2 separate regions of the Homo sapiens genome follow, and region 1 is linked to region 2. Evidence: fine-mapped expression QTL. Tissue or cell type: substantia nigra. Region 2 holds a variant in brackets; the other region holds the start of a gene. All regions are shown on one strand. Distances are from middle to middle.

Region 1 (2,686 bases), 960 kb before region 2:
CAACGAGATTTCCTTTCTCCCCATTCTTCAAGGGTTGGCATTGCAGATAAGCCCTCCCATGCAAAAGTCATGGGGGCACTTAACCTAAGAAGAATGTGGTATAAATTCTGCATCTTACCTTCACACCTTGTGATTCACTCTGCATGAATGTCACTTTATTACTACAAAGGCATAATTCTAGCTGCTAAATTTTTTTCACAATCAATAACCAGTAGTCTAGGCTCTAAAGCTATGTTTTTCAGGCAAAAGGAATATCACTTGGATGCAAACTAGAACCCTTCTAAAAAATGATTGATAGGTGGTTCATGGATGACTATCTGATGAAAGTTTGTAAGGGGAAAAACTCAGAAGTTCCAGATGTATATTCCTGACCACTGAGAAGGAAAATAACAATGTCTCCATGGCCTGGTCCAGTCAAAATAGCTACCAGGCTGAATCAGTATTTTTTTTTTTTTTTTTTTTTTTGAGACAGAGTCTCACTCTGTCACCCAGGCTGGAGTGCAGTGCAGTGGCATGATCTCAGCTCACTGCAACCTCCATCTCCCCCGCTCAAGAGATTCTCCTGCCCCAGCCTCCCGAATATCTGGGATCACAGGCATGCACCACCATGCCCGGCTACTCTTTTATATTTTTAGTAGAGACGGGGTTTCACCATGTTGACCAGGCTGGTCTTGAACTCCTGACCTCAAGTGATCCGCCCGCCTTGGCCTCCCAAAGTGCTGGGATTACAGGCGTGAGCCACGGCGCCTGGCCTAAATCGCCCTTTCTTATTACTTTCTTAGAACTTTGGGCTATCTCATTTATGAATGATGGAAGAGTTCTGCTGAGGATTTCAATTCAGAAAGCAGGGTTCTCTCTGTGGGTAAACTTCATATCACCCAGACATAATTTCTACCGAACATCATCAATTAAATAACAAGAGAGGAGGTCAACACCTTGAGACCTGAGGAAGAAGAAAAAATACTTATCATTAAGTGTAGGATGCAAACATTCTATTAGAAGCTTAGAAGCAAAGAGTAAGATATTATTTTCGTGGATACAAGAGAAGACAGAGAAAGACAGAGGGAGCGGCCCTTACGACTGATTTGTGTTTACACAATAAGGAAATCTCTCCTCTGGGGTCTCTCCGTAGTTCACAGGGACCCTGCTTCCAGGGGCACGCGTGGCGAAGAGAGTCCGTCCAGAGCTCCAGCCCTCACTGCACTTCCCAGGTGCCAAGACAAAACATCACTGGGTGGGGAGAGAACTGTCATGAGGATTATTCCCCCGCCACACAATGCTGAGCTTCTCTCCCTCTCTTTTTGAAGAAGTGCGTTTATGACTGATCGCTCAACACCTTGTTGGTTCTGATTGCAGAAAACACACCTTATAAATATATGATAACCATCCTGTAATAGAGAGTGTGACAATTTACTTCACAGTGCGTTTCGGGCTGCTAATTGATCGTTTCAGTCCAGGGACGATTTGGAATAAATTATAGCCATCAAAAGGATATCACAGCTCATTTTGGTGGAAGGGTTTCCACGTCGCTTCGCGTTCGTCTCCCGGAGAGAGCAGATTGCACCCGGCGGGCGTTGAGGAGCGGAGGGAGGGGGCAGGGGAAAAGGAGGCCAGCGGGGCGGGGATGGGCCGAAGGGCGGGGCCGGGGGGCGGGGCAGCGTCTCCCGCGGCGGCTGCAGGTCCGCCGCCGGACGGTAGAGGCCTCCCTTCCGAGGAGGCGGTGCTGGGGCGGGCGCAGGACTGCAGGCTGGGGCTCCGCTCCCCGGCGGGAGCCCGCGCGTGGTTCCCAGCGAAGTCCCCGCGCGGCTGGGCCCAGCGTGAGTATTCTCCGCCCGCTGTCCTCCCCCTGGAGGCGGCAGCGCCCGTTTATTTGAGGTGAGAGTCTCCCTCGGGCAGAGGGCCCTGCTTGGGGCGGGGGTGCTTGCGTGCGCGGGGTCTCACCTCCTGCCCGAGGCTTCCCCTCAGTGGGGCTGCTCCGCAGGGCAGACGCGGTGACCCAGGGCGCTGCGTTCTGCGCTCCTGGAGCTGGAGGTAGCGAGGCGTGGAGGCGCCGTGGCCCCGTTGGGGGCTTTGTGTGCACTTGGGGCTCGTGACTCGGATAGCTCTGGTTCCCACGTTGCAGTTGGGGAGGAGGCTAGTGGAGAGACCCAGTCTGGAGGGAGCTGTGCCCACCGCAAACCCCAGGAGAGGGCGTGGAGAGGGCCGGCCCGCCGGGACGGCGCAGCCAGGCGATGCCGGGGTCGCCCGGGGGTCGCTAGGGCAGCGGGTGACGCGCTGTGGAGCGCGGCGAGAACGACGGCCTCTGACCCCGGAGCGCTCGCCAAGGCCACGCCGAGGTGGCTGGACCCTGCCCCTCCCCGCTGCCGGCCTGGGCCCCAGCCTGCCTCAGAGACTTCGATTTCAGTTTCCAGCAAAAGTGTGTGCCATTGTGTGGTGGTCGTGGAGGAGGGAGACCCACGCGCCTGTCTATCGCTGGATGGGATTGGAATTTGAAGAAAAAATGTCCCTACTCCTGTTGCGGGTTCTTGCCTATCTGGCCGCCTCCAGTCCCGCCCACGAGACCTCCAGCTTTCATTTTCTTCCTGAACTAAAGCCCGAGGACTGAGGCCCTTCACGCGTAGCGTAGCCCCCACCCCCGGTGCCCAAAGCCGGCCATCGCACGGCGGTTCTTAGCTTTTTAGTCTCT
Region 2 (2,686 bases):
AAATTACCTAGCTGGGAATTTTTCTGAGCCATTTGCTTGTTTATGATAGCTTGAAGAAAACATACCAAGTCTGCCAAATCTGTAAATACATAGGGATTTAAAACTCTTGTCAAATAAGAAAAATGAACAAATTTAAGGTCATCTAACAGACTTCATAATATATTATATGAATATAGTAGGCTTATCTTTTCTTGCGTAGTAATACAAAAGTCCTGCATGTGTTCCCAGTATGTTGATTTATTTTTAGGATAATGTAATAATTTTGTTTCCAAAAAATGTTAATTATCTAGCACACCTGTCTGTCCTCAGACAAGCAAGTACAGGAGTCAGTTAACACTGCTCACTGTAGGCACTGAGACATCAGCCTGCTTGCTTACTGAGTGATCAGTGGGTGGGGTGGGGGTGGGAGACCTTCACCTACAGACACACTTGGGTCATGGAATCTGACAATGAAAGAATATGAGCACTATTTGATAGTGTTGAAAGCACTCAGAACTTTCAACACTATGGCTGTCTCCGAACTTGACAGAATTTTCCGTATCACATCAGCCAATATTGTACTCACCCGTAAGATATGGAACACTTGTATCTTAAGGAAAGGAAAGAAACAACTATTTGAGTGGTGACTTATATTCCCTTTATGAAATTTACTTATGTCACTCACATTCCAATAATAGTAAGCATACATTATTTTTCTATATTTCAGCTTACTCAGTATTGTGCTGATGATGTACATGAACACTATCTTCTTGGTTTACTCTGTTCTCCATTCACTTTAGCCAAATAATGTCAGCAACCTTTCTTATACTACCTCTAAACCCAATGGGCTATGACTCTGTCCAATTTCCTAAAAGATTTAAGTTCAGCTTGCCTCCCTAAATTGCTATCTAAAAGAATGTTTAAGGGAGCATCTCAATTTCCTATGTTCTGAAAGTTAACACTCAGAGATAAACAGGAATCACATTTCTACTATACATTCCAGTTATCTTCAAGCATTTCCCTTCATACCCTTGTGCTACTGATGCCAAGAATGCTATGTGCTCGGCTCACTCTCAGATGGAGAGTGAGTAATATGGGGCTGTCTTAGTCTGAACTGCTATTACAGATTACACAGGCTGGGTGCCTTAAATGACAAACATTTATTCCTCACAGTTCTGGAATCTGGAAATCTAAGATCAGGGTACCAACACAGCCGAGTTTGGTGAGGGCCTTCTTCCAGATTGCAGACAGCTGACTTCCCTGTCTATCCTCACATGGTGAGAAAAGGGCAGGAGAACTCTCTGGGGTCCCTTTTATAACAGCATGAATCCCATCCATGAGGGCAGAGCCCTCATGCCCTAATTACTTTCCAAAGGCCCTACCTCCTAATAC[C/T]ATTACACTGGGGTTAGGATTTCAACACTTTGTGGGGGACATAAACACTTAGTCCATAACAAGAGCCCTCTGCTTCCAGCATATATTGCTCTAATGAGAGTTATCAGGTAAGGGTTTAGCACATTTTAATCTCAAGTCAGTCAAAAACTCACATCACCAATTATCTGCAAATACAGAACAATTAAAATGGTAATTAAATTACTCCAGATATTCATCTAAAAAACTCTTTAGTTTCCACTATGCTCTACTGAAAAAAGAGTAAGTCTGCAATCATCAAGAGGTCTTAAGTCTAAAAACCAACTGCATGTCTCAAGGCATTTTACACTACTATCCAGTATAAAAGACATTCTAAAATACTAGATATTAAAGCATTCAGAACAATAACGTATGTCCCATTACAATATAGATGGGTTCCACTGTATCTACTTCAGGGAAAAAATGTATGCTTGGGAAAACAAGAGCATTCTTATCAATCTTGAAAATGCATAATTTCCAGTATTTTCTGTTGTTTTGTTTTCAGAATACTTTGTTCCTGGGGAAATATGCTAATTCCCTTGCAATTCTGGTCTACCTTTTTTTTCCTAGTTAAATGAGCAAATAAAGTCAAATTTTAAGCATGAAGTTAGATGCTTTCTAGGAAAAAAGTGATAACGAATATTTTTCAAGTAACTGAAAGCTATAACCATGTTTTCGCCCACTGGCTGCCCTTCAGTTCTTTGAATATGCCAAGCTCACCTGTATCTCAGGACCTCTGCACGTGCTCATCCCTCTGCAGGACTGTTCATTCCCCAGATCTTCTCATTGTTCCCTTCTTCTCAACACTCCTGCCCTAGCTCAGCTGGCACCTCTTCATTGAGGCCTTTCCTGATTAGTCCCCATCTCATTTCATTTCTTCATAGCTTTTACAGCTATTTTATATTATCTTGTTTATGTTTTTGGTTGCTTATGGATCCACAAGCTGAGATCCTGTCTATTTTGTTCACACTCTATTCTCAGCACCTAGGACAGTACCTGTCATATAGATGTTTATAGATTATCTGTTTAATAAATAAATAAATGAATGAATGAACAAATTAACCACATGTCAACTGAAAGCTGAGGACATGTAATTTCAAATAAACTTTGTCTGATTGAATTTTACTTGATTTCAAGAAAGTTTTAACAAAGTTACATATAATAACCTTGTGAATTTGACAGAAATATCAATCTACGGCCAGGCACAGTGGCTCACGCCTGTAATCCCAGCACTTTGGAAGGCCGAGGTGGGTGGATCATGAGGTCAGAAGATCGAGACCATCCTGGCTAACACAGTGAA

What was found. PIP is the estimated chance that this variant, and not a neighbour inherited with it, causes the effect.
Region 1: LINC01763 starts here. The variant in region 2 is fine-mapped to the expression of LINC01763 in substantia nigra (GTEx, PIP above 0.99).

Annotation. Positions count from the first base shown.
Region 1 is chr1:90,850,672-90,853,357 of GRCh38, reverse strand. LINC01763 (long intergenic non-protein coding RNA 1763) reads right to left here and starts at 1,599. Exons shown (of 2, transcript NR_146610.1): 1 at 1,079-1,599. LINC02609 (long intergenic non-protein coding RNA 2609) reads left to right here and starts at 1,720. Exons shown (of 3, transcript NR_135038.1): 1 at 1,720-1,875. RefSeq lists silencers at 1,582-1,981, 2,272-2,391 and an enhancer at 2,175-2,675.
Region 2 is chr1:89,892,716-89,895,401 of GRCh38, reverse strand. The region is part of intron 2 of LRRC8D (leucine rich repeat containing 8 VRAC subunit D); the gene reads right to left. Among named protein-coding and RNA genes, the nearest start is that of LRRC8D-DT, 72 kb to the right of the region's middle. RefSeq lists a silencer at 878-1,172. The variant C/T (reference allele first, on the strand shown) is at 1,372.